Homo sapiens: one gene and its partners. The protein of the gene in region 1 purifies or fractionates together with the protein of each later gene. This does not show direct contact. Each region holds a gene or a part of one and is shown in the gene's direction. Other genes may lie near its edges. The genes, in order: TRUB2, FASTKD2, MRPL39 and DCAF10.

Region 1 (7,710 bases):
CTACCTCTCGAAGTAGAATAGAAATGAGGGCAGGGAACTTGGCTGTCTAGTTCACCATTATATCCCCTGTACACAAAACAATGGTTGGGCTGGGCACGGTGGCTCACACCTGTAGTCCCAGCATTTTGGGAGGCTGAGGCAGGTGGATCACTTGAGGTCAGGAGTTCAAGACCAGCCTGGTTAATATGGTAAAACCCCTCTCTACTAAAAGTACAAAAATTAGCTGGGCGTTGTGGTGTGCACCTGTAGTCCCAGCTACGTGGGGGGTTGAGGCAGGAGAATCGCTTGAACCCAGGAAGCTGAGTTGCAGTGAGCCGAGACGGCGCCACTGCACTCCAGCCTGGGTGGCAGAGCGGGACCCTGTCTCAAAACAAAACAAAACAAAAAGGATGGGCCGGGCGCTGTGGCTCACGCCTGTAATCCCAGCACTTTGGGAGGCTGATGCGGGCGGATCACGTGGTCAGGAGATCGAGACCATCCTGGCTAGCACGGTGAAACCCCGTCTCTACTAAAAAATACAAAAAATTAGCCGGGCGTCGTGGCGGGCGCCTGTAGTCCCAGCTACTCGGGAGGCTGAGGCAGGAGAATGGCGTGTACCTGGGAGGCGGAGCTTGCAGTGAGCAGAGATCGCACCACTGCACTCTAGCCTGGGCGACAGAGCGACTCAAAAAAAAAAAGGGATGGCACATAGCAGAGCCTCAGTTAGTGAATGAGTTTGCCAATAGTCGGGACACCCCCTTTCCCCCTCTCCTTGTCCTCCCTGCCTGGGGCTGGAGGGGCTGGAGAGTGCCACACCTGCCATACCGTAGGGAAAGCAATGTCCCTGGAATAAAGGGATACAGTACAGCAGTGAAGAGCATGATCTGGGATTGATTACTATCTCCATTAATACCAGTTATGTGGAATTAGCAAGTTTGCTTCACTGCTCTGAGCCTCTGTTTCCTTATCTGCTAAAAGAGGATAATAATAGAACATACTTGACAGAGTTGTGGGGGGATTCAGCAAGATCACGGATGAGGCTGGCATCAGGCATGCAGTGCGAGGTTAATGAACACTGGCCAGTATTATCAATTGCAGGCATGTTCCCACCCATTTGCCTATCCCATAGAAAATGACAAAGCCTTGGCATGAGCCTGAAGAGCACTCCTGCCAATGGTGGCAGCTCAGGGCTCCTCTTTCCTCAGGGTGTCATGCCTGTGCTATTCCTCTGTCCTGTCTGGTGACTGCCAGATACACAGGAGCTGAAAACTCACGTTCACATCCAGGAAACGGAGATACTCGCGACCGAGGGAGCCTTCCGGCAGGCTCTGGAGCTTGCCCAGGTCGAGGGTGGATGTCGAAATCCGGGGACGCTCCCTGAAAGGCAAGACTTGGGCATTGGGAGGGTGTGGGCAAAGGTAGGTGAACGATCCAACTACAGCGAGCTGAGGGGCGGGAGAATGTACAGAGGAGCAATGTGGCCACCACAAGCCTTAATGGAGCACCTACAACTGGCCAGGCTAGTGTCAGGGACTTAGGATACTACCCCAAACCAAGGACATGGGCAGGGGTACAATCTCGGCAGGAAGACAGTCCTCGAATGTGACCAGAGTACTTGCAAAAGGTACTGCAAGGGAGGGGTAAAGCCAGCACATGTTATGGGAACTTAATGAAGGCACAGAGCCCTGTGGTTGAAACTGGGCCAAGGCTATCACACTGCACAACTCGGAAGTCATCAGTGTATACACATGTATGTGAATGACACCCCTGGAATTGGGCAGTGCCCAGCCTGTGCAACCATATGTAGCCAGGGTATCAAAAGCTCCCTAGCGGAACAGAACAAACACAATGTGATTCTAGAGAGGTCAGAATACCTAGAGAATGCCCCCAGACCCCCAGGCAGAGCTGGGACCTACTGCAGGATCTGGGCACCCTCTGGATCCCTCCTCATCTGGTCCCTGAGGACCTTCAGGGTGCGGTGTCCTGTGGTCTCCCCTAGAACTGCGACCATGTCTGAAAGGACAGAAACGGGCACAAATGGGGGATGTCATCTTAGGTAAGTTAGCTGACCTGGTCTGAGCCTTTGTTTCCTACAGGATAAATTAGGGATGATGTCTAGCTCTTTGTTATAAGGATTCAGGCTAAACACTTAGCAAATTACCCAGCACACAACAAGGGATCAGTATACATATCTATAGTTCTTATTCTTAATCTACTGGGGCGGGACAGCTCTAGTTAGCACAACGTTGTAAAGATTTTATAAATCACTTTTCACAATACAATATCATGTCTCCATTGATTGGTAGAGGCTTAGGCATCAGAGATGCTGGGCTACAGTCCAGGTGTGTTCACTATCTAGGTGACCTAGTACAAATTGCTTCACATTTCTGTTTTGTTTTGTTTTTTTGAGACAGGGTCTTGCTCTGTTGCCCAGGCTGGAGTGAAGTGGTGTGATCATAGCTCACTGCTAGGACTACAGGCATGCAGCTAGTTTTTTAAATTTTCTGTAGAGATGAGGTCTTGCTATGTTGCCCAGGCTGGTCTTGAACTTTGGCCCCAAGTGATCCTCCCACCTTGGATTCCCAAATTGCTGGGATTACAGGTGTGAGCCACCATGCCTGGCCTGCTTCACATTTTTCAGCCTCAGTGTCTTAATTTGTGAAGTGCAGACAACACCTTTCTTAGCTGGTTAATGTGAGAAACCATGAAAATCATATATATATAACACTTAGTGGCCAAGTGTAGCGGCTGACACCTGTAATCTCAACACTGGGGGGCTGAGGCAGGAGGATCACTTGAGGCCAAGAGTTCCAGAGCAGCCTGGGCAACGTGGCAAGACGCCGTCTCTACAAAAAAATTAAAAAATTCGCTGGTCTTGGCCGGGCGTGGTGGCTCATGCCTGTAATCCCAACACTTTGGGAGGCCGAGGTGGGAGGATCACCTGAAGTCAGGAGTTTGAGACCAGCCTGGGCAACATAGCAAAATCCCGTCTCTACTAAAAATACAACAATTAGCCAGGCCGCACAGGCCTGTAATCCCAGCTACTCAGGAGGCTGAGGCACGAGAATCGCTTGAACCTGGGAGGTGGAAGTTGCATAGAGCTGAGATTGCGCCACTGCACTCCAGCGTGGGCCACAGAGCAATACTGTGTCTCAAAACAAAACAAACAAAAAACCACTGGGGACATGGAGATATAGTGTATTTTTTGTTTAAGACAGGGTCTCGCTCTGTCGCCCAGGCTGGAGTGCAATGGCGCAATCACAACTTACTGCAGTCTCGAACTCCCCGGCTCAAATGGTCCTTCCACCTCAGCCTGGGAATACAGCCGCATGCAACCAGCCCCAATTAATTCTTGTATTTTTTTTTGTAGAGATGGGGATTCACCGTGTTGCCCAGGCTGGTTTCAAACTCCTCAGCTCAAGCCATCTGCCCGCTTCGGCCCCCCGATAGGGATTATAGGCGTGAGCCACTATAATAGCGCCTAGCCTGTTTTTGTTAGTAGGAATAACAGTACTTCCCAGAACTCAAAAATCTAGGAGGCATAAGAAAAACACTGTAGAACCCTAGAATGTTCTAGTCACACATCCAGCAAACATTTATTGAGCATTTACTATGTGCCAGGCACTATCCAGAAGGCTGCAGATGCAGTGGAACGAGGCAGACATGGTCCTCGACCTCGGAGTTGACTTTCTAGTAGGATATTATAAACTGATCGGTACTTATGAATCATCTATTTAGTCTAGATGTTCTCAATATGGCTGCATGACAGATTCTCCCAAGTAGTTTAAAGACAGACTTTCGGTTTCACGCCCATTTCTCCCTCCACTGCAGATTCAGATTCAGATTCAGTGCGTTTAGGTGGGATCCAGGAATCTGCATTTTCATAAACGTTCCGAGTGGTTACGAGCTGCAACCAGGTTTGGGTACCCCGACCTAGGCTATGTTCCAGTTACCCACAGGAAACGGCTCCAAGCCGCCCCCACGGGGGCGAGGCGCGGGCGGCCTTACCGTGGCGGTAGGGGTTATAGAGCGCCATCGCCGCGGAGCCGGCGGCCAACAGCCCTTTCTGCAGCGGGGAGGTGGGGAGGTGGTGCGAGTATAGCGGGCCGGCGCCGTCGCTCCTAGCCCGGAGGGGCATTTCTGCGGGGCAAGAAAAAGGCCGAGGTCAGAGGAGCCGGGCGCCCTCAGGCTCCTTCCCGCCTGCGCCCAGAACCCGGCGCCACTTGCCTGCCGCAGGCCGCTGTAGGCCCGGGAGCCCGCAGAGCCGACGGAGGACAGGGCGCAGCAGAGTCGCCATGGCAGCGGGCGTCCGCGGAGGATGGGCGGGTACGAAGAACGCCGCGATTCTGTCAGGCGACGGAGCGTCGGAGGGGTCAAAACTCACTGAAAAACCGATTCTGACGGCGTAGCCTACGGCCTTTCGAGGGGAAACATCGCTTCACGGGCAGAAGGCATGTAGGCCAAGTAGGCGAAGGAAACGCACGCGAACTGTCTACCGTCTACGTCCACCGATCCAAGACTCTCGCCATGTCACCTCGCCCCAGAAAGTGTCTGCAAAGGACACGCAACCACGCTCACTCAGCGCCGGGCCCTATTTCCTTCTCCACAGCCGGTTTTCCCCGAAGACTATAAAATGCGAACCTCTTCCGGCTGTGGAACATGGCGGCGCCCGTGGAAAGGACCACATTTGGGGGCGGGGCCTGGCGGTACTTCCGTCCAGGTCCAGCGGGTGCTGTGATCTTCAAGTATGGGGTCTGCTGGCTTGTCGCGGCTGCATGGGCTTTTCGCGGTCTATAAGCCCCCGGGGCTAAAATGGAAGCACCTGCGGGATACAGTGGAGCTACAACTTCTGAAGGGTGAGTGCCTCGAACCAGACCCACGTTCCCGCTCTCGTTCTCTTGGAAGTCCATCTCCGCTTCTGGTCCTTACCCCAAAACAAAATCACGTGACCTATTCACCTGGGCAGAGCGCTTTCCCAAACGCCTGTTCTCTGTGCTTTCTTACTCCTCACTTTCCTCTGTTTTCCGAGGGGGAAACTGACTCAGTATTGTTCCTTGTCACACGGTTACTACGTTGTAGAGTCTGTTTGAATCCGCCTGTTTCTTAACTACTGCTATACTGCCCTCTGCACCATGGGCTTCTGCTTTGTCTTCTACATCATACTTCCCTGTTGTCTAATCCCCCAAGTGTTTGGACAGAACAAGATATTCCTGGTCAGCATCGTGGTGCACGCCTGTAATCCCAGCTACTCTGGAGGCTGAGGCAGGAGGATCGCTTGAGCCCAAGAGTTTGACGTTACAGTGAGCTATGATGGCGCCATTGCACTTCAGCCTGGGCTACAGAACGAGGCCCTGTCTCTTAAAAAATATTTTATATGTACATATATTTGTATGTATGTGTGTATATATTATCTCTGTGTGTTCAGGTCTCAATGCCAGGAAGCCTCCCGCTCCTAAACAGCGTGTTCGCTTCTTGCTGGGCCCCATGGAAGGCAGCGAAGAGAAGGAGCTGACCCTCACAGCCACCAGCGTACCCTCTTTCATCAACCATCCACTGGGTAAGGCAGATTTAAGCAGGATCCTGTGTGTCACTTCCCAGGAAATCCCTGAGCCGAGTCAGTGTCCCAGTGCTCAGATTCCTGTGCCAGGCCCTTGAAGGTCCACAGAGGAGTGAGGTATTAGACCAGGAATTGGCAGATTTCCTTGGAAAGGGCCAGATACTGAATGTTTTAGTTTTCAGGCCATGTGATTTCCGTTGGAACTGCTCAACTCTGCCAATGTAGTGCCAAACAGCTATAGACAGTATCTAAAGGAATGAGCCTAGCTGTATTCCAATAGAACTTTATGAATATTCATATTTGAACTTCAGGTAATTTTCACGTGTCACTAAGTACAGTTGCCTCTGAGTCCATGAGTTCCACATCCCATGATCCAGCTTCAGATTGGCAGTATTTGGGAAGAAAAACACAAAGTTCCAAAAAGCAAAACTTGAATTTGCTGTGCACCTAGTACTGTGTTGAATCCACTCAAGGTGATGCATAGGCATTATATTAGGCATTATAAGTAATCTAGCTAGGCGTGGTGGCTCACGCCTGTAATCCCAGCATTTTGAGAGGCCGAGGAGGGTGGATCATGAGGTCAAGAGATCGAGACCATCCTGGCCAACATGGTGAAACCCCGTCTCTACTAAAAATACAAAAATTAGCCGGGAGTGGTGGCAGGCGCCTGTAGTCCCAGTTGCTCAGGAGGCTGAGGCAGGAGAATCACTTGAACCCGGGAGGCGGAGGTTGCAGTGAGCCGAAATTGTGCCACTGCACGCCAGCCTGGCAACAGAGCGAGACTCCGTCTCAAAAAAAAAAAGGTAATCTAGAGATGATTTAAAATATATGGGAAGGCCAGGCCTGGTGGCTCATGCTTGTAATCCCAGCACTTTGGGAAGCTGAGGCGGTGGATTACTTGAGCCTAGGAGTTTAACATCAGCCTGGGCAACATGGGGAAACCCTACTTCTACAAGAGAATACAAAAGGCCGGGTGCAGTGGCTCACACCTGTAATCCCAGCACTTTGGGAGGCTGAGGCGAGCAGATCACCTGAGGTCGGGAGTTCGAGACCAGCCTGGCCAACATGGAGAAACCCCGTCTCTACTAAAAATACAAAATTAGACAGGTGTGGTGGCACATGCCTATAATCCCAGGTTCTCAGGAGGCTGAGGCAGGAGAATTGCTTGAACCCGGGAGTCGGAGGTTGCGGTGAGCTTAGGTTGTGCCATTGCACTCTAGCCTGGACAATAAGAGTGAAACTGTCTCAAAAAAAAAAAAAAATTAGCCAGGTGGGGTGGCATATGCCTGTAGTTCCAGCTACTCGGGAGGTTGAGGTGGGAGAATCACTTGAGCCCAGGAGTTCAGAGGCTGCAGTGAGCCGAGACTGTGCCAGTGCACTCCAGCCTGGGTGACAGAGTGAGACTCTGTCTCCAAAAAAAATAAAGAGGCTGAGGTGGGCGGATCACGAGGTCAGGAAATCGAGACCATCCTGGCTAATACGGTGATACCCTGTCTCTACTAAAAATACAAAGAAATTAGCCGGGCGTGGTGGTGGGCGCCTGTAGTCCCAGCTACTCCAGAGGCTGAGGCAGGAGAATGGCGTGAACCCAGGAGGCGGAGCTTGCAGTGAGCGGAGATCGTGCCACTGCACTCCAGCCTGGGCGACACAGCGAGACTCAGTCTCAAAAAAAAAAAAAGTGGCCAGGTGTGGTGGCTCACGCCTGTAATCGCTGCACTTTGGGAGGCCAAGGTGGGCGGATCACTTGAGGTCAGGAGTTCAAGACATGGCAAAGCCCCGTCTCTAGTAAAAATTAGCTGGGCATGATAGCACGTACCTGTAATCCCAGCTACTCAGGAGGCTGAGTTACGAGGAGTCGCACGAACCTGGGAGGCAGAGGTTGTGGTGAGCCATGATCGTGCCACTGCACTCCAGCCTGGGTGAAAGAGTGAGACTCTGCCTCAAAAAAAAAAAAAAAAGGTATATGGGACGACATGCCTAGGTTATATGCAAATACTATGCCATTTTATATCAGGGACTTGAACATCTACAAATTTTGGTATCTGCAAGGGATCCTGGACCCAATCCCCTTGGATACCAAGGGACAACTGTAGTATTCTATTTATTTAGAGACAGGGTCTCACTCTGTCACCCAGGCTGGAGGGCAGTGGTGAGATCTCGGCTCACTGAAACCT
Region 2 (7,023 bases), on another chromosome or scaffold:
CTTACTCTTTGGATCAGTCAGGGTTCATTAAAAATCAGAAAAGCATATAAAATGTCATTTGTTAAAACAGTGATTAAAAGCATGGACTCTAGAGCTAGCTTGCTTAGGTTTGAGTTTCAGCATTGCCATTTGTTAGCTGCTTGACTTTTGGCAAATTACTTATCTGTGCCTCAGTTTATTCACTTATTAAAATGGAGATGAGCTATGTCTAATCTCATTGGGTTGTTATTAGAATTAAATGAGTTAATCTATGTCAAGTTCTTATGACAATGCCCAGCACATAGTAATTTTTAGATTTGAAAAAAATTAGAGTGTAGGTCACAGAGGCCTTGGGGGAACAAACTAGGGCAGTTGTGAAGGTCTCAGTGGCAAGATGCACAGGCCATCTGTTTGCCATCAAATGACTTGACTCCAGCTGCTTGCTTTCCTTTTAGTTTTCCCTCCAGATTTAGATTTCTGAAAGAGAACATCTGATTGACTGAGTTTGAGTCAAATGCCCATCCCTTAGGGGCAGTTAATCAATTAAGTGGTGTCAGGCCAACTAAAAAGCAGCTTCCCACTGTACTGTCCACTGAATGGACAGACTCAGCTCATACTGCATTTCCTGTGTCTTCCCTAATTGTCACCGTCAGAGTCCCTGTGCTTGTCATGTCTTACCCAGTCTCCGGTGCAGCCTTGACAACAGGCTGCACCGGAGACTGGGTAAGACATGACAAGTTGTGTCACATCATTTGTTGTGTCAGTAAGTCTGTCTCTGCTCCTCAGTTGGTAAGCTCTCCGGAGTCCGACCCAGCTGCCTGTTTTTCTGAACTTAGTACAGGACCTGCCAAAGAGTAGACATTTAATAAAGGTCGAAAAATATCTCCCAAATTCAATCTTCCTTTACTCCCCTGGCTTCATTTTCTTCTGAGGCTGGCTCCCATTGATGCCTTGTACTTTCTAGACAAATAATATCAAGCTAAGTGGTAATTAAAACTCCAGAAACAGCCCCAGAGGGATTAAGAGAGTAAGTACTGGGCGGGTAAGAGTTTTTCAGGTGACTCCAGGCAACCTGAGAGATAACTTGTTCCAACAAAATTGTTACATTGAAAATAGAGGGGGGATAACAAAGGTAACAAAGGCTGGGAGGACATTTAATAAAATGGCAGTAGTAGAATTAGTACAGGAGGAGAATCATGAATGTTGTCTTTTTGTCTGTCTATTCTGCTTTCATTTAACCTAGTGGTTTTCAAACAGGGATGATTTTGCCTCCCAGGGGACATTTGGCAAGGTATGGAGATGGTTTTTAGTTGCCACAACAGGAGGGAGGTCTGTGCTACTGGCCTCTAGTGGACAGAGGCCAGGGGTGCCGCTAACATCCTACTATGCAGAAGATAGCCCCTCACAATAAGGAATTATCCAGCCCCGGATGTTAGTAGTGCTGAGATTGAGAAACCCTTACCTAATTCTAAGCCTCCCACCTCAACATTTCTCCAAAGGAGAAGTAGGGGCAATATGGCAGATATAGCAAGATTAATTAGTCACCATTTCCTGAATGCCCATGAATGTACAATTGCCTGGATTTGGTATTTTGAAGGCTATAAAAAAAGAAGTTTGTATTCCCTGCTCTTCCTAGACCATTTATGAGAACAACTCTGTTGTATATCCAGAGGAAGGCAGTACATGGTAGGCACCAAGTAAGTGCTTTATGGAGGAAGGAGAAAGGAAGATGGCAACTTATCTGGAGTAGCAAAGGTTTTGGAAGCAGAATAACTCAAAGTATTTGGGAAGAGAGTTGACTAGAAGAGATGGTTAGATAGGAGAGTGGTAGGAATTCTGGCTTATTGTATACCCACATGCTATACATTAATCATTATTTCATTTATGATGGCCCATCGGGGAGAGGGTGTTAAATCCAGAGTATCTTGCTGGGCTTTGAACCCAAGGAACAAATATGTAACGTTTAAGCTCTGTTGTTTTGGTCCTTTGGTTTCTTCTCTTCTTGATCTGTATTTACCACCTTATGGATAATCCCACATTTGCATCTGTGGTCATTAGTGTGCTCCTTAACTCCAGACCTGAGTCTCTGTGGGTTGCATATGGTCACTGCACATCCCAGAAGTGTCTCAAGTTCAGTAATTCTGGAAGTCAGCTATTTTTCTTGACTCATCGTTTTCCAATGACAAGCTCGTCCTCCTGTCTTCCTCATCAAAGTTTATTTGTTCGTTTAGTCAGCATTTGCCAAGCACCTGGACACTTAGGAGAAAGATGAATAAGACAGTCCTTCTTGCCAGAGGATTCTGTGTAATGGGTAAGGTAGATATGTAAATTGGCAGTTAAATATAGCATGAAAATTCGAGTGATCTAGCATATTAGTCTGTTTTCACGCAGCTGATAAAGACATACCCGAGACTGGGCACTTTACAAAAGAAAGAGGTTTAATGGACTCACAGTTCCACATGGCTGGGGAGGCCCCACAATCATGGCAGAAGATGAAAGGCACATCTCACAGGGCAGCAGACAAGAGAGACAGCCAAGCAAAAGGGGTTTCCCCTTATAAAACTATCAGATCTCGTGAGACTTATTGACTACCACAAGAAGAGTATGGGGGAAACCACCCCCATGATTCAGCTATCTACCACTGGGTCCCTCACAACACAAGGGAATTATAGGAGCTACAATTCAAAATGAGATTTGGGTGGGGACACAGCCAAACCATATCATCTAGGATATTTGGAAATAGAGGAAGGATATATCAGGATGCCAGCCTGGTGAAGAGGAGGGTCAGGGGATATCAGGCAGTGTTGCCTGGAGGGGTTGGTATCTGAGCTGATCTTAAAAGATGGAGAGATGGGGTTTTACCATGGAAAGATAAGCAGGAAAGAACATTCCAAGTGAAAGGCCCTCTATATGCAAGACCTGGAGGAAAGAAACAGCAGAGCACATGCAGGGAACAGCACACAGTTTGGGCTGCTGAAGCATGAGGTACAGGGTGAGGAGTGGGGCAAGAGAAGACCAGAGGGGGGATCATTACCCAGGCTCCCAACTTCCTTGTCCACACCATCCCCTGCCCCCGCATCCCACTGCATGTTCCAAAAGCAGTCAGTACTAATTTCAGACGTGCTGCCTTGCTATTGCGTATATGATCTGTTATATTCCTCCCATTTCATCATAATTCCTATCGTTTTCCTGGCCTTATCACAGCCCTTCATCCTCCCCAACACTTCTTCCCCTACCCATGGACCTCTCAGTTGATTTCAGTCTCATTGTTAACAAGGGCTTGTGTCCAGGCATATTTGCCCCAGCTGTTAAGAAACACTCCTCTGTACCTTCATCTCACCAGTTATTCACTATCAGGCAAGTAGCATGTGCTTTCAGGGCTGTGCTCAAATCTTCTTCCCTTATTCCATCTTTTCCACTTATTCAAATTCTCCTCCCAAAAGCTTCTGTTTATTTTCTTTCCTCTGCGAGATCACAGTACTTTGCATGTATTTCTTTTTTTATATAACTATATGTATCATATGCCCTGAGAATCAGATTGACGTGTGTTCAAAGGGTATCTACCATTTATTAGTGGTGTCACTCTGGGCAAGCGACTGCCCCTGATTTTGATCTTTTCTGTCTTCATTTGTGCTTAACCACGTTATACTGTGTACCATTAGCTGTGGGTGGTAGGATTAGGCTTGCAGTTCTTTTAACCCATAGTATTGATAACTAGATAATTTTAGTTGGTTATAAAACTGTAGTGGTGGTCCAGGCGTTATAGAAAATCTAGCATAATTATGAAAAGGTTCTGGAGCCTGACACCTTATGTTCTAATACTGCCTTTGCTACTTCCTTGTCTGTGTGTTCTTAGACAAGTTACTCAATCTCTAAGCCTGTTTACCCATTTTTTTAAATGAGGAGAATAATAGTAATACCCATGGAGTTTTTTAGTGTGAGTTAAATGAGTTAAAGTCTATAAAATGTTTGTCTCGTGCAAGACATACAGCAATAGCCAACATTTATTGAATGTATACACTTATTATGAGATAACCAACTGTCCAGAATGATGTGTGGATACTTACTTGCAAGGCTGATTTTCTTATCTCTTTTCTTTGGAATCGTTACAGATATTGGCCTTCTGTATATGTTGGGAAACTGACTTTTCTTTGTTCCCCAGACAGTTCGTGGAAGTTATGGCTAGTGCTCTGACTGGTTATCTTCACACTATTTCTTCTGAAAACTTATTGGATGCAGTATATTCATTTTGCTTGATGAATTACTTTCCCCTGGCTCCTTTTAATCAGCTTCTGCAAAAAGACATCATCAGTGAGCTGCTGACATCAGGTAGGATGTTAGTGCAGAATTGGTCACCAATTGTGACCAATTCTGCACTACCACTAGCTACCATATGACTCTGAATGGGGTCTTAGTTGGAGCAGTGTTAGTTGAAATTTGCAGAGCAGGTGTTGCTGTGGAAAGGGCTGATAATGGTGAAGTCAAAGGATAGTGCTTCAAAGCAGCAAACCTACAGACCCTTCTTTAATGACAAGTCCTACATGTAGAAAAAAATAAGGAATGCATCATTATTCCTTTTATTTATACTCTATCCTTCTATACAAAGGCTAACTGTTCAGGCTGTTCTTTATGCTTTGATCAGAGCTGTTTTAATTCCTAATCCTTACTTATCACATTTGAAGCCAACCTAAGTCAATTTTTGCAGCTGTAAACACTTGGTCACTCCTGGCCTGTGATGAGGGAACACCTGTTAGATCAAGAAACCAAATAGCCACCAAATTAATTAGTTCATTTACTCTTGGAACCAAATTAACTGTTGACTTTTAGTCTTTAGTATTAAATAAGGCAAAGCAATATTCAGGTAGATGTACAAAATTTGACGATGTGTCTGAGAATAGAGTAGTTCAGAATTAAAACATAAATAAATAAATGTTATAAAATCCCAAAGTTGAGTTGTAGAGAGTCAGTCAATAATACCACGTGCTGGTTTTTCAGGCAGTGTAATAATGGAGAAACAGCCTTGAACCTTGGAAACCTGGATTCTAGTTCCAACTTTGCCTTAATTACGAGGCTTTTTAACTTTCCTGGGCATTTCCTTATCCATAAATTGAGGAGTTTAGACTAAATGACCTCTAAAGATATTTGAAGCCTTAAAACATTATCAAGTGCAGGGCTTTGATTTAGACCCTGTGGAAACCAGGGAGACAAAGAGAGAGTCCTTGTGATAAGAAAGAGATAATTAGAAATACAAGTGCATTTATGTATATATTTATTATTTTATAACTATTACTAAATATATACTAATATAGTTTTTTAATGTTGCATTTATTTCTTCTTAATGATATACTCTCTTTTTCATCTTTTAGATGACATGAAGAATGCTTACAAGCTGCATACTTTGGATACTTGTCTAAAACTTGATGATACTGTCTATCTGAGGGACATAGCCTTGTCACTCCCACAGCTGCCGCGGGAGCTGCCATCGTCACATACAAATGCAAAGGTGGCAGAGGTGCTGAGCAGCCTTCTGGGAGGTGAAGGACACTTCTCAAAGGATGTGCACTTGCCACACAATTATCATATTGGTATGGGACATTATATGATTTCCTTTCATTTTATTGTATTTATTTTCCTTTTTTTCTGACCAAAAAAATAGGTATTTGTGGCAGCAGTTTAGTGTAGTGCAGCATTGCCTCTGGAACTGGCCTGATTCTTGCCTCATAAAATTCTTGTGACCAATAAATGAAATTCTACACATTTTTATGTGTCTAAAATCCCAAGACTAGTATCTGACACATGGTTAGCTCTCAATATATTTTAGCTACTGCTATTATCATTATTGGTAGTACTATTAAACATTTTGAAACAGAAAATCACTTGGGGCTGGTCACGGTGGCACACGCCTGTAATCCTAGCATGTGGAGAGGCCGAGGCAGGTGGATCACTGGAGCTCAGGAGTTCAAGACCAGCCTGACCAAATGGTAAAATCCTGTCTCTACCAAAAAAATACAAAACTTAGATGGGCGTGATGGCATGCCCCTGTAGTCCCAGCTACTCAACAGGGTGGGGTAAAAGGATTGCTTGAACCTGGGAAGTTGCTGCAGTGAGCTGAGATCACACTACTGCACTCCAGCCTGGATGACAGAGCGAGACCACATCTCAAAAAAAAAAAAAAAAAGGAAAAGAAAAGAAAAAGAAAGTCACTTGGAGGAATGTTTGAAAAATTAATATCAATTCTTTCCTTTCAGATTTTGAAATCAGAATGGACACTAACAGGAATCAAGTGCTACCACTTTCTGATGTGGATACAACTTCTGCTACAGATATTCAAAGGTTGCTTACATATATTTCATTTGCTGGGCTTTCTGAATTAAAATCCTAATTCTAAAAGACTTCATATTAAATAGCAGTAGTAAATCTAAGACTTGATGTTTGTATGGAGCCTGCAGCACACCAAGAGACTTGTCATCCATCAATGTACTCCTTAGAAAGTGTAAATGTGGACGTTATGGTTGAATACAATGGACTACAGTATTGGTCATTTAATGAGACAGACATTTTTTTAAAATTAGGTTTTGAAGCTATAGTTCAATAAAACAATATTAATATAATTGAAACTATCAATGCAGTGTAGACTTTGGACAAGATAATATAATAGTGATCATAAAGAATAAAGACTCGAGGCTTCTACAAAAATCAAATACCCAATAAATATTTTGCTCTACCACCAAGACTTTTCCAGAGGTAGAGAAACCGTAGTTTTTTAATTAAACTGTATTTGTATGGGTTAGAGCACATTGAAGCTAATCCTAAGTTGTTTCTTTGGCTCACACATTACAAATAGAGTGTCTCTGGGGAGAAATATGATGCTATACCATGAGAGAACATCCTGCCTCTTCAGTAGATGCATAAGATCATGCCATCATTGCACACACCCGTGGGTCAGTTACCCTTTATGTAAAAGCTCTGCTACATGGATCCTGACCCCAAGGAACTTGTATCTTCTGTTAACTCCACTGGACACACACACACACATAAATATGA
Region 3 (7,475 bases), on another chromosome or scaffold:
GACACGTAAAATGCATGTCAAATGCTTCTGCAATTATTTGATTCCCAAAATACAGCTTATTTGTATGCTTCCTAGACCTTCAATTACAGGCAGTGTAACTGACCCAGGGCCCCAGCTGCTGAACTCTGAAATAACATGTTTGCTTTGAGGCAAACATGCTTCCTGCTTCCCAGGGGCTGCTCCCAGCCAAAGACTGAGCACAGTGGGGACACTGAGGCATGCCCACTTTGGCTTTGGGGATTTACCTAATGATCTTGCTGAAACTTTATTAGACTGCACTGGTGGTCAAGAATGCGTTCATTCAATTTTCCTTCCTTCTCTTCTTCACATGGAGTCAGCCTTACCTGGCCACCTTCCCCTTTTCCCTTACAAACATTTCTCCTAACGATTTCCTTGCATACTTACCTCTGTCTTGGTATCTGTTCTTCAGAGTATCTGGACTAACACAAACTGATTAAAAGTACAGCTTTGTGAGGCACAGAACCATATGTTTGGTATCTTGCATGTTGGGTCAGTAGGAGGAACATAAGATAGAGGTTATGTTCCTCTATCTTATGGGGATACTGATAGAGGCATAATAATGGGGTAGCTGATAGAGGCATCAAGAACTCTCAACAGTGGTATCCTGTGTGGGGTTTTGGTAAGAACTTGTGAATCAAGAAAAGAACTGAGAGTGAAACTTTTCCTTAGGCACCTTTACATTAAAAGACAAAATTTCCCAACAAGTAAATGTATAATGATTTGAAAATGTAAAATCAAATATTTGGATTTAAAAAGCGTATGAATTTGAGAACAAAGAAAGTATAGGGTTTGGAGACAGCCAGATCTGAGTTTAAGCCCCAGATAATCTTTGCGATCTTGGGAAAATTACTGTGTTACTGGATTTTTTTTTTTTTCTTTTGGAACAGGATCTCACTCTGTCATTTAGGCCAGAGTGCAGTGGTGCAATCACAGCTCACTACAGCCTCGACTTCCTGGGCTCAGGTGATTCTCCCACCTCAGCCTCCCAAGTACCACCACACCCAGCTGATTTTTTGTATTTGTTTTGTAGAGACAGGGTTTTGCCATGTTATCCAGACTGGTCTCCATCTCCTGAGCTCAAAGGAGCTGCTCACTTCAGCCACTCTACAGTGCTGGGATTACAAGAGTGAGCCATGAAACCTGGCGTTGTTATTGAATCTTGATTCCAGTGATTTGCATTCCTCCTTGAATGTGAAGTATATAACCTCATTTACTGGCTCCCTGCAGGAGGCATCCTACTTGATTGACATTGGTCTTGACCAGGGGACTTGCTGGGGCCAGGGGACTGTGTGGCTGAGACACAGGTGAGTCTGAACAGAAGCTCTTAAGAGCCAGTGCACAAGGTGGTTAACTGCATTCTTTTCCCTCTGCCACAAGAAGCACAAGACCAAGTAGGGGCTGCTTCTATGGCCTGGATTCTGGAATAAAGTTGCAGAGCCGCAATTGGCTGGTAGCTGCCATCACTGACAGCCAACATAAGCAAAATAAACTTTCATGGTTGAAAACCACTGAAGTTATTCTCCAAAGTTTTGATGTTGAAACATTTCAGAATAAAGTTGAAGGAGTAGTTCAACTAAAATCCTCACTTAGATTCTCTAATTGTTAACATTTTGCCACATTTGCTAAATTTGTCTTGTTCCCTCCCTCAATATTAGAGCTCCCTGTTTTTGCTGAAACATTTGGGAGTTTGTTATAGGCATAGTGATATTTGGTTCCTAAATATTTTAATATATATATCTTAAGAATAAGGATTATTTCCTATATGACCATGACACTATTATTGTATCCAAGAAGTATAACATTGATATAATATTATTTAGTATACAGTTCAAGTTTCTCTGTCACAATAACATTCTTTGTAAATTTTTTTTCCTGATCCAAAACCTAGCGAGGATCATGCATTGATAATAACTGTATATTTCTTTAGTCTCCTTTAATTTAGGACAGTTTATTAACTATTTGGGGGTTCATCTTTCATAAAACTTACATTTTTGAAGAGTTTAGGTCAGTTGTTTTGTAGAATATATCACTTTTTGGATATACCTGATTTCCTCATAATTCTTTAGATTCAGGTTAAATATTTATGTTAGGAATACTCCATAGATAATATTGTTTATATCACAACCAAGAAGCACAAATAATGTCAGATTGTCTCATTTTGGGTGATGATAAGTTTGACCACTTGATGATGATATCCACCAGATTTCTCCATTGAAAAGTTTCACTTATCCATTTGTATTTTGTCAGTAATATGTGAGGTGATACTTAGAGACTATGTGACTATATCCCTGATCCTCAACAAACTTTCTCTACTGATTTTAGCATCTATTGACGATCCCTTCCTGTACCAATGGTTACATTGGTAGATGCAGAATGGTGATTTTCCCTATTCTATTATTCCTATGACTTTTATTATCTGGCATTCTTTTGTACAGAAAACTCTCTTCACTCTTTCTACACTGATTTATTCTTGAGTGTCATTACGGATTCATGAATTTTTAATATACATGTCATAATATTTCAGCATTATTCTTTTTGTTATGCAAACTCTCCCAAATTTGGACAGCGGGAGGACCTTCGAGCTTGGTCCGCCGTCCTTTTTAACATGTTTCTGTTTGTCTGTATTTTATAGTTAGTTGTAGGCTTTCTGGCACAGTAATGATCCAGGCTTATCTTAGATATTTACTGTTACAGACTTGATACTTTTTATTTGGCAGAGACATTGACAGAGTGAGACTAAGATTTGGGGAGCTGGTTGATAAAGAAGGCAAGATAAAGAAGATTCAGAGTAAGAAAATATTTGGGGGGAATTCTTGGCCAAAGATTTACCTCGGGTATGTCTCTCAAGCTCTTAAAACCTGAATTTCTTTTCCTGGAATATGAAGATTATTATGCCAATTGCTCAGGTAGGTTGTGAAAATTAATAAACCAAGCCCTATGATTGGCACATAGTATTTTTTGGCCATTATCACTAGTGACAACCTTTCAACTAGGTTAATTTCTCATACCGGTGAACTCCAATTACCTGCCTCCAATGGGTTTGTGATCAAACTTGCTTAAGTTTATGTTCAGAGGCTTTGCTTAAATGTGGCTCTAAGATGTTCTAAGGGCACTAGAGTGTTTCTAGGTAAGGTTAAATGGGTACAGGCTCTAAAAGGCCGATGAAACAGACAGCTTTCATGGGAACTGTATGCAAATTTGAGGAAGCAAAAGATACACCCGCCCTCCAACACTATATGTATATATGTACATTTCGTGGTTTGAATTAGGATCTTAAATGAAATGTAGCCTGGTAAAATGTAGACTGGATGTAAATCCAAGCTCCGTCACTTACATTTCCCATTTTAAAAAGTGAAGATACTTACACTTTCCTGGCGCAGTGGTTGTGAGTGTAACATTTGGGCCAAGGAGACGGTCGATCTATCGTGGCGCAGGGTCATATTTGTACCTTAGGCGGCACTTCCACCTGGTGGCGGCGCATTCCAATTGCAAGGCAAAGGACAGAGTGGGGGAAAGGCTGAATTCGACACCCTTAAGTAAAGCCACAGAATTAAACTACTGTAAATGAAAATATTTCCATCCTGTACCTACAGAGTGCTTACTTCAAATAACACTCACGTCCTGGTAGGACAGAAAAATTAGACAATGAGCTGAAGTTTGCCTGCAAGGGCATTCATTCATTCATTCATTCAAGAAACATCTGTTGAGCGCTGACTGCGCTGTGCTCTGTTCTGGGCGCTTGGGATACATCAGTGAACTAGAGACAAAAATTCTGCCCCGGGATGCCTTCTCCTATACATCCTATACTATATAAACTAAACTAGAAAATTTGTAAAGAGCTCTTAGGAATTACAACGTCCTCTCCAAAGTCAAGGGGACGTGTTCCGAGGCCTCTATTACCACAGCTAAGGGGAGAACCGGGGTGCAGACCCACTCCAGCCGAACTAAGAACCTACCCGGCACAATTGAAAGTTAAGCCACGCGCTAGAGGATGTCATCGCTGACAAAATAGAAGACGCCTTCCCCATTCCCCCCCACCCCCGCCCCCGCCAAGAAAACCATATATTCTTTTAGGGAAGCAAGCGCTTCACCTGGGTGGCCGGGATCGAACCCGCGGAGGGCTGAAGGCGGAGGGCAACGACGCCTGTGGAACTCTGTTTCCCTGCAGAGCCTACGTGGTGGGCGGCAGGCCGACCGCCCTGGGGGCCCTGCACCTCTGGGTAGGTGACCGCGCCCAGGTATCGAGCACAGGTAACGCGCCCCGGCTCCGAGTCTCGGGGTCTCAGCCACTGAATCCCCAGCGAGGCCTGACGCCCCCCGGTGGAGGCGAGCAGTCTGAGTGCTGGGTCCGGAACAGACCTGTCCTGCGGAACTCCGAGTGCGCGTTCGGTTTCCGGGGGAGGAGGGCGGAGAAGGACTTGCGCGCGACGGTTCTCACCGCTGCTATGGAGGCGCTGGCCATGGGTTCCCGGGCGCTGCGGCTCTGGCTGGTCGCACCCGGTGGCGGGATCAAATGGAGTGAGTTTCAGAGGCCGTAGGGACAGGGAGCGAGGCCTAGATAGTGGTGTCTGTCTAGATTGGGTCTGAGGCGGGGCCGGGGAGGTCCCGCGGGGCAGAGGAAGGAGGAGGGTTTCTTAGTCCCTCCGCGGCGGTCGCTCTTGCACAGCTTGGGAGGACTAATTTATGGGAACGAGGGTCTGGCGGAGGGCAGGGGCAAGGGCAGGGGTCGGGGCCAGGGGTCGGAGCCAGGCCGCGGGAGGAGCTTGGGCCCGCCTCTGGGAAGCAGCGCACGTTCCGTGCACATCTGTCCATGTCTTCCCAAGGAATACTCGTACTTGCCTTGGCAGGTTCCCTGATTTGGCCTTTGGGATATAAACTCAGCATTTCTCATTCTGGATATTGATAGTTTCGGTGTGGGACCTTTGGTTTCCTGAAATTTTCTTGTTTTTCTTCAGACCCTGTCAAACCGACCACTTTGTTCACCTTCCCAATGACTCTAGTCCAGTTTTGACTCCGTTTCCTGGTTACTTTTTGCCCCTTATTGTAAAGCACTGATTGGAAACACGACACAGGAAATTGGTGGGAAATAGCGATCTGATGTGAAAGAGCCAAATTTAAAAGTAGAGGCACGTATCTGGGCCAGCTCTGTTTCTTCCGCTGGTGTTTGTTAATATTACAAATTGGTTTAATTTTACCTCTGAGCGCACTTTTGGCAGTACGTTAATCATTTTTTCAGTCTTCATATTTATTGTAACTTCTCCACAGGATTTATAGCAACATCGTCAGCTTCTCAGCTGTCACCGACAGAATTGACAGAAATGCGGAATGATCTCTTTAATAAAGAGAAAGCCAGGCAGTTATCATTAACTCCCCGAACTGAGAAGATAGAAGTTAAGCATGTTGGGAAAACTGACCCCGGTACTGTCTTCGTGATGAATAAAAACATTTCAACTCCCTACAGTTGTGCCATGCGTAAGTAGCAGAATCAGGTTACAGTTTTGACCCTTTTACTTAAGCTGTGTGGAAGCACTGGTGCAGGAGACAGGATGCTGTAATTACTTCTGGTCATCTGTGGCCATGGCAATCCCTTTATACCAAAATCCTTTCTTGAGACCTGCATGGTGACTGCTCCCACCACATCACAGACCTAGCTAAAAAGAGCAAGCAAATCCCAGCTACTTGGGAGGCTGAAGCAGGAGGATAGCTTGAGGCCAGAAGTTCAAGACCAGCCTGGGCACCATAGCCACCCTGTCTCTCAAAAAATAAAAATAGAAATAAATTAGCCAGATGTGGTGGGCGCAGAAGTCCCTGGACTTCCCAGAGGTTCTTTATCTGGCACCTTATTGTCTATTCACTGTCCCTGTAGTTCTGGAGGGTACTCTGAGTATTGCAAGGTTGGCACTGTAGTGCACAGATTGTCCTGCCTGGCGCTTGTTTGAATCTGGCTTTGTTTATGGTACTAGATAATTTTCTGGCAGAAGGTGACCAGACCTGAGTGCATTGTTACTAGTGTGCTTTCTCCTTTAATTTAATTTAATTTTAGAGATGAGGGTCTGGCCCTGCTCCCAGGCTGGAGTGTAGTGGTACTATCATAGCTCACTGAAACTCCTAGCCTCAGCCTACGAAGTAGCTGGGACTACAGGTGCCCACCATCACACCTGGCTAATTTATTTTTATTTTTGAGAGAGAGGGTGGCTGTGGTGCCCAGGCTGGTCTTGAACTTCTGACCTCAAGCTCTCCTCCTGCTTCAGCCTCCCAAGTAGCTGGAATTTGCTTGCTCCTTTTAGCTAGGGCTGTGATGTGGTGGGAGGAGTCACCGTGCAGGTCTCAAGAAAGGATTTTGGTGTAAAGGGATTGCCATGGCCTCAGATGATCAGCTTTTTTTTGCCGCCTTTTTCTTTCTCCCCTCTTCATTGTATAGCCTAACTTAATCTATCATCTGCTTTCCACTTGGCTCTCTCTGTGTTGTATTTTTGTTGACATTTAGATGTACATGTGGTAAATGTGTGAGTGGGAATGTGCATGGGGTGAATGTGATTGGGGTAAAAGTATTTATGTATATCTTAAAGGAGACAACTGTGCCCCATGTGTGATTTTGTGTGGAAATGAAGGGAATAAGAACTTCTATATTTTATTTTTGATCAAAATGTTTTGATAGTACGTTTGATAGAACTGGTAATATTTAAATTAAAGAAGCCCCAAAACAGATACAGGCATGACTAGCTGCATTGCTTAAACTTTTGGAAAACTCAGTAACCATTCCATTTAAGTAATTAACAACTTTAGTTATCAGCTTAAACTGGCCTAGAGAGTCTACACTCACTCTTAATCTTCCTTCACTCTGGCATTTGAATTAGTACTTATAAATATTTACTCATTTGGTTTTCAAGTATTTCTGGAACCTCTGCGATATGATAGGCATTAGGACTACAGAGGAGGATAAGACAAAACTCAGGCCCTTAAGGAGCTTTATACACATCACATGTAGTGATGAAGCTTCTGAAGCATCCTCAGCATGACCCCTGCAATGAGACGTTCTTGTCATTCATGCTTGCAGTCATTCAGTAAACTGTTATTGAACACCTGCTATATTCCAGGCCTGGTGCTAGACTCTGGATATACTGATGAGTGAGCAAAAGTAGACATGATCCCTGACTTTACGGGGTTTATGTAGTGGTTGATAATTTAGACCTTGTAGTTTGACTACTTTTGTGAGTAGCTGTGTAATTGCAGAACATCTAATTGGCATTAACAGTTGGCATTGCATTCTGGGATGATGAAACAGACCAGAGCTGATTGGCTTATCCGGGAGTTAATATTAATTATTAAAAAATGGTAACTACTGTATTTAACTTGAAGCATCTATGTCATGGAAATAAGAGATGGTTTGGGAGCAAGACCCAAAACCAATCTAGAACTGATTTTTGTAGGTGTGTATTAATATATTTCCCTTT
Region 4 (7,023 bases), about 90 Mb from region 1:
TCTATGCCTTAGCCTTAGGTCAGTGACAATTACTGCTGTGGGAACTTGGATCTTTTGTTCTATTTATACCCTTTCCCCACACCTTCACCCCGCCAAAACTCACACACCATACATTGGGGAGTACCACGCTCTTTAACATATGGTAGCATAAGGGGCAGACTAAGGAATGACGGCATGGGAGGTGGCTGCCAGAAATAAAAAGCTTTGATGAACTGCCTTAGTTTTTTGATAATACAAATCCCACATCCTCATTTTCTTATATCTCAGGAGTTTCACCACGAAATAGTCTTGAAGTCGTAACCCCTGAAGTTCTTGGTGAGAGTGACCACGGAAACTGCATCACGTCCTTACAGCTGCACCCAAAAGGCTGGGCCACTCTTCTTCGGTGCTCAAGCAACAGTGATGATGAGGAGGTACAGGCAGCAGCACTCCACCTTCAACAGGGCTCATTGGACAAATTGCCATTGCCGTGTGTGCAGAGCTTAGGCCGATCGCTGACTGCAGTCTCTGCCTTCAAGGGCATACTGCTAGAGATCCTGCTTCTCGACTCTCCTGTTTCTGTCCTCTCTTGCTTCATATGGTATCATTATCCCTTCCAAACTCTTCTTATTCCTCTCCTGCTGGGGTTGAGCAAGGTGGGAGGTACTTTAAAGGCCAGCATCAGCTCAGTTTTTGCCCAGCTTCTTAAATCTTGCCTCTTTCATCTCACCCTAAACAAACAAACAAACAAACAAACAAAAACCCCTTGTATAATAAACATAGGTCTGAAATGTTTCAGCTAAGCTGGCTAAATGTGAGATTTTACTAAGCCAATTGAGTATCATAATTTTCTTTTTTTAAAAACCAGGGGAAACTCTGGGAAAGGAAGGGACTATACTGATGACTAGGGGGAAAGGTGTTAAATGACTTTATGATTCTCATCACTCTGGAAAGCAAGAGTCTTCCAAGGATCTCACTGGTCCTAGAGGCCACAACTGAAAGGAGAGAAGAGAAGAGCCTTTGAATTGTGTAGGGGAAGAGGTAAGATACTCTAGGGCTTGGATGTACTCCAGGAATTTTTAAAATATCAACATTGTTGTTGCCCTTAGAAAAGAGAATGTATTACTGCAAAAGTCACAGGCAGCCTCAGGGAACAAAAGGCTTTAAAGCATCATAACACAGAATAACCTCAGCTTATGAAGATAAGAAAGTAGGGGGCCTACAAGTTTTGTTAGTTGGGAGGGGGATAGCATTATTCTGAGTGATTTCTTGTAAAAATTCTGTGGCTTTGGCAATCTGTTGAGCTTTTTAAAAATAAGGAATATCTGTAGCACTATTTGGGCTCTGTAACCTTGGTTTGTCTCCCTTCTCTCCCCCTAGTGTACTTGTGTCTATGAATTCCAAGAAGGAGCTCCAGTGCGACCTGTCTCACCTCGCTGTTCTCTACGACTGACTCATTACATTGAAGAAGCCAATGTAGGCAGGGGTTACATCAAAGAACTTTGCTTCAGCCCCGATGGACGAATGATTTCTTCCCCACATGGCTATGGGATTCGCTTGTTGGGATTTGACAAACAGTGCAGTGAACTTGTTGACTGCTTGCCCAAAGAAGCCAGTCCCCTGCGGGTGATCCGTTCTCTGTACTCTCATAATGATGTGGTACTGACAACAAAGTTCTCTCCAACACATTGTCAGATTGCCTCAGGGTGCCTTAGTGGACGGGTTTCTTTGTATCAGCCAAAGTTTTAGGCACAACTTACATCAAATAAGGAACTCTTCTGGTGTTTGACTTAGGAATTGCTTCAATTTAGATGAAGTATTTTCTTTTTAGAAGATCTTATAAGTTTGGGTCAAGATCCTGGTTCTTATGGGTCCATGAACACACTTGTGACCTTAGTACTTGGTCATCCAGCATCATACAGGCATCTCCAAGTTAGACTCTATGCAGCATCATCTTTTGCAGCATTCCTCTGCTCCTGCTGATCTGTGCCACTGAACTCCAGTTCTTCTGGTCATTTTGCATGGTAGCTCTTGTCACGTTCCTTCCTTCCTCACTCTCTATTTCTCTTTCCCTCTCCCTGTCCCTCTCTTTCTTTGTGTTTGTTGATTTTGGTGTCAATTTTGTGGACATTTGGCAGGAGTTTTGACTGGGGTAGGAGAAACCCATGACATTAGAATTGAATAAAACCTAGAAGTTGGATATTGGCATATTGGTTGTTGAAAAATAAATTTCATCCTCACTTATGAGTATACTTGGCCTTTTAAAGTTACTGTTATGTTTATCTATATTGAGCACAGATAATGGCATTATTCTTATAATTGTTAAGATAGTCTTGCAACAAAATGTCTTTTAAGTTTCCTGTTAAAATTATAAAAAGATTTTCATGGTGAGAGGGATTTTATTGTGAAATTCTAGAAAAAAATATTACCACCTCTCTTTGTAATTTACTTTACTTGTATGAATTTAACATCTCTAGCATGTATCCTTACTTGATATTTTGTTCCTATCAACAGCATTAGAAAGGAAAGGAGACAGAATGAGCTTTGGTTATTTCTATTGCACAGAAAAGGATTTTTAAAATTAGATTAGTATAATATCTGGCCATAGAGTGATAAGAACAATATGACTTAGATTTTCTGTATTTCATCTGCCAGATTATTTGAATCACACAGGATGATGTGTTAACAGTATTAGGGTGGAAGAGGAATCAAGAGTAAAGAGGTAGGGGTTTACTCATTTTTCTTCCCTGAGCCAGGTGTGACAAGCCAACTCTGTCACCATTCGTGAGGGGAGAGTTGCAGTCCTCTTCAAGCTGTTATCATAAGTACAGTAGTCAGCTACTTGGATATCAAGACTAAGTGCTGATATGAAGACTTGCCTTTGTGTTTTGTTATGAAACACGCAAGCATAAAGCAGGACTCAAGCACAAGGCTGACTGTTCTACTTTGAATAACAGCTTCCTTGCAGTCTCCTCCACATGGGTGGTACTGTGTTTAGAAGGGATTACCAAAGGCTGGAGCGATTTAAGCTATGCACTAGCCTTGCCCTCTTAGGTTGCATTCTCTTTAGGCCACTGGTTCTCAAACATTAGGGTGCACTGTAACCATTACAGAGCTTGTGAAAAGTGCAGAAACCTGAGCCTCACCTTATGAGATTCTGATTCAGCCAGGGGGAGGACAGGAATCTGTATTTTTCATAGCAACCTCAAGTAATCTTTATTCTGAGGGTCTCGGGATTGCAGGTTGAAAAACACAACCTTAATCAGCAGTAAATTCTTCTCTACTCGGCCAGGCGCAGTGGCTCATGCCTGTAATCCCAGCACTTTGGGAGGCCGAGGTGGGTGGATCACAAGGTCAGGAGTTCGAGACCAGCCTGACCAACATGGTGAAACGCCATCTCTACTAAAAATACAAAAATTAGCCGGGCGTGGTGGTGCTCACCTGTAATCCCAGCTACCCAGGAGGCTGAGGCAAGAGAATCACTTGAACCCGGGAGGCAGAGGGTGCAGTAAGCCGAGATTGCACCACTGCACTCCAGCCTAGGCGACAGAGCGAGACTCTGTCTCAAAAAAAAAAAAAAAAAAAAAAAATTCTTCTCTACCCATTTGGGCTTAAGACAATTCCCAGAAAGTGTTTTCATTATTTAAAAAATAATAATAGTAAATGAAAGCAATTTTAGAGGTGGAAAATACCTTAGAATGGAATCATTTGCATTATTTGACAAATGAGAGAAGTGACATGACTTGCCTAAGGTCATCCTGCAAAGTTAGTGGCAGAGTTAGGACTTGAATTCCAGTCTTCTAATTCCTTGGTCAGGGCAATTTCTACTGTGTTATGCTGTCTGTTAGAAATAATGACTTATGGACACTTTGTCTTTAAGTTGTATTATTGTAAATACCCTTAAACTGGCCAATAGATTTTAGAAAGGCAGGCATGGGAGTAGATGCTGAGAATTCTAGCCATAAGAAGAAAAGTATTTTAAATCTTACAGAAATGTTTAAACAACCCAAAATACATGAATAAAAATGACATTTCTTTGTAGGACCTGCCAACTAACTATTCACACACATTTATAGAGGTTATAAGGATCTTGGCTCTAGAACAAATTTTTGAAATTAGATCATTTTACCATGGATGTTAACAAAATTGGAAATTTTTTGTCACTGAGAAAATTATCACAAAGCACAGTAAATACATATACTTACCATACATTTTGTAAAAAACACATTTTTTAAAGAAAATAGGGATGGGTATGGTGGCTCACGTCTGTAATCCCAGCACTTTGGGAGGCCAAGGTGGGAGGTTCACTTGAGCCCAGGAGTTCCAGACCAGTCTGGGCAACATGGCGAAACCCCATCTCTACCAAAAATACAAAAATTAGATGGGCATGTTGGTACACGCCTGTAGTCCTAGCTACTCAGGAGGCTGAGGTGGGAGGATGGTTTGAGCCTGGGAGGCAGAGGCTGCAGTGAGCCAAGATTGCACTATTGCACTCCACCCTGGGCAATAGAGCCAGATCCTGTCTCAAAAAATAAAAATAGACTGGGCATGGTGGCTCATGCCTGTAATCCCAGCACTTTGGGAGGCTGAGGTGGGTGGATCACTTGAGGTCAGGAGTTTGAGAACAGCCTAGCCAACATGGTGAAACCCTGTCTCTACCAAAAATACAAAAATCATAGCCAAGCGTGGTGGCAGGTGCCTGTAATCCCAGCTACTCAGGAGGCTGAGGCAGGAGACTCGCATGAACCTGGGAGGCAGAGGTTGCAGTGAGCCGAGATCGCACCACTGTACTCTAGCCTGACCAGCAGAGCGAGACTCTGCCTCAAAAAAAAAAAAAAAAATAAAATAAAATAAAATTAGTTTTGGAGGTGAAAACACCCAAACTGTTATTATTTAAAAATACCTACCAAGTACTGTGGTCATATTGACATTCAAAAGAAGTTTCATAAATCGTATCAACTCTGGAAAGAGTTCATGTCAGATGCTAGACCAGCAAGTTACCCAACTCAAAATTCAGCCAATGATTCTTTACTATAGAGTACCTATCATGTGTCAAATAATATACAGACTTCACTACTAACCCTCACAAAAACTTGCAGGGTAGGTGGAATGAGCCCCAATTTAATTTGGAGGTAATAGTGGGTCAGAAAGATTAAATGACTTGCCTTAAGTCATAGAGTTAGCAGTGAGTGGCAGCACTGGGATTCAAACCCAGGTTTGTGTCTTGTCCAAAGCCTGTGCTTACTGCTTTACCATTGTGCTCTTTAGTTTGTAAAGTATGGTAAGCTGGCCTGTTATTTGTTTAGTATCTTCTGGATTTTTTTTTTTTAATTATAGAGCTAGCTTACCGTGTGTATCATGTAAAAAAAATTCATAAGATTAACAATTTCCATGAGAATATCATAAACTCAGGGCACACATTCTGGCCATTCCTGACTAAAAAACTTCAAGCAGAATAAGCAGCTATAAAATAGAAAAGAAAAATTAAGGATAAACGGCATTGTGAAAAAAAACCGAGCCACACAGATGAGAATTAAAAATTAACAGCCAGCAAACTCAAAAGAACCTTTGTCCTCCTTGAGATATGGTGATGATCAAAAAGTTAGCAAGGAATATTAATCAAGGAATTAAAGGGCATTAGGAATGCTATAGTATTGGAAGAAATTACATCTTAACATTTCAAAGCCCCATTTCACTTAAGAGTAAAATCTAATCTGATGTTTTTTACTCTGAATTTTATTCAGTAATTTTTATTCATAATTCATGATAATTGGTAATGTAGTATAATTGTTAGTAAATGCAGTACAAATTGTTCTACTGTTTTAAAAAGTTTTCCGCAGAACAGTGCATTTATGGCAATGCTATGTTTAATGAGTTAGGGACATCAAATATATAGTAGTTCCTTATTTTCAGTTGTGAAAATGAAATGGCTAAAGCAGAAGAGACGTCTATTTTAGTCTTTTAAAAATGTGTGTGGGTGGTCTTTTTTCCTCAGAAGCCCAAAGCACATGTATATTTTGTTATTTCTCCTTGCTATATTCCTGAGACTATACTAAAAACTTTAAGAAAAGGAACAAGAAAAAGGTAAATTCATGTGTTCCCCACTGCTGTGTCTAGAACCAAGATCACATTATATCATTGTTAAAATTGTGTTATCTAGAAAGTGCAATATAGGGAAAACACTCTAAGAATCTTTTAAAAGCCTAGTGTTTCCCTTATTTGTCAGAATATGTGGTAGTGGCATCCATAAGTATCTTTTAACTTGCATTTAGCAGGACAAATAGTGTGATACTTATACTGATGACAATCATCCCCATTTAATGACCAGCAGTCACTGAGCGCTGTGAAAATTCACTCAGTGATACCCCGTGTTGGTCTTGAAGGAAACCGTACATATGAATTTTTGGATAGCTAATGTATATCTCTCAAGTGCCAACATTTAAAACTTGTAATTATTTTTGATGTGAGTATTTCAGGTATGTTAGTATACCTTCCTGCCTTCTTCTTAAACATCATGCTCAGTATAATTCACATTTTCATGATGAAAAGTTAAAGTTATATTCATAATGTATTATTATAAGTATCCAGCTCTGATGTATGTAAAACACTTCATAAAATGTAAAGGGCTATAACAAATATGTTATAAAGTGATTCTCTCAGCCCTGAGGTATACAGAATCATTTGCCTCAGACTGCTGTTGGATTTTAAAATTTTTAAAATATCTGCTAAGTAATTTGCTATGTCTTCTCCCACACTATCAATATGCCTGCTTCTAACAGGCTCCCCACTTTCTTCTAATGTGCTGTTATGAGCTTTGGACATGAGATAACCGTGCCTGTTCAGAGTGTCTACAGTAAGAGCTGGACAAACTCTGGGGGGACACAGTCTTTGAGACAGCTCTTTTGGTTGCTTTCCACTTTTCTGAAAGGTTCACAGTAACCTTCTAGATAATAGAAACTCCCAGTTAAAGCCTAGGCTAGCAATTTTTTTTAGTTGCAACTAAGTAAGATATACTACAAACTAAGGATGCTGCTAGACTAAGGA

What was found.
Region 2: the proteins of TRUB2 (region 1) and FASTKD2 purify together in Homo sapiens (affinity purification with mass spectrometry; 3 studies listed by BioGRID and IntAct, with this or other methods). This does not show direct contact.
Region 3: the proteins of TRUB2 (region 1) and MRPL39 purify together in Homo sapiens (affinity purification with mass spectrometry; 3 studies listed by BioGRID and IntAct, with this or other methods). This does not show direct contact.
Region 4: the proteins of TRUB2 (region 1) and DCAF10 purify together in Homo sapiens (affinity purification with mass spectrometry; 3 studies listed by BioGRID and IntAct, with this or other methods). This does not show direct contact.

Annotation. Positions count from the first base shown.
Region 1 is NC_000009.12:128,319,425-128,327,134, reverse strand, and holds the start of TRUB2 (pseudouridylate synthase TRUB2, mitochondrial), read left to right. Parts: upstream 1-4,687; 5' UTR 4,688-4,726; coding exon 4,727-4,835; intron 4,836-4,916; exon of another isoform or gene 4,917-5,279; intron 5,280-5,404; coding exon 5,405-5,536; intron 5,537-7,710. Other genes in the region: ubiquinone biosynthesis protein COQ4 homolog, mitochondrial isoform 1 precursor, read right to left, coding at 1,254-1,356, 1,896-1,992, 3,988-4,119, 4,207-4,276. UniProt on the Homo sapiens protein: Minor enzyme contributing to the isomerization of uridine to pseudouridine (pseudouridylation) of specific mitochondrial mRNAs (mt-mRNAs) such as COXI and COXIII mt-mRNAs.
Region 2 is NC_000002.12:206,782,592-206,789,614, forward strand, and holds part of FASTKD2 (FAST kinase domain-containing protein 2, mitochondrial), read left to right. Parts: intron 1-642; exon of another isoform or gene 643-717; intron 718-4,141; coding exon 4,142-4,308; intron 4,309-5,345; coding exon 5,346-5,564; intron 5,565-6,227; coding exon 6,228-6,312; intron 6,313-7,023. UniProt on the Homo sapiens protein: Plays an important role in assembly of the mitochondrial large ribosomal subunit.
Region 3 is NC_000021.9:25,604,467-25,611,941, reverse strand, and holds the start of MRPL39 (large ribosomal subunit protein mL39), read left to right. Parts: upstream 1-4,460; 5' UTR 4,461-4,466; coding exon 4,467-4,539; intron 4,540-5,286; coding exon 5,287-5,493; intron 5,494-7,475.
Region 4 is NC_000009.12:37,859,781-37,866,803, forward strand, and holds part of DCAF10 (DDB1- and CUL4-associated factor 10), read left to right. Parts: intron 1-267; coding exon 268-413; intron 414-847; coding exon of another isoform or gene 848-880; exon of another isoform or gene 881-1,020; intron 1,021-1,359; coding exon 1,360-1,728; 3' UTR 1,729-7,023. UniProt on the Homo sapiens protein: May function as a substrate receptor for CUL4-DDB1 E3 ubiquitin-protein ligase complex.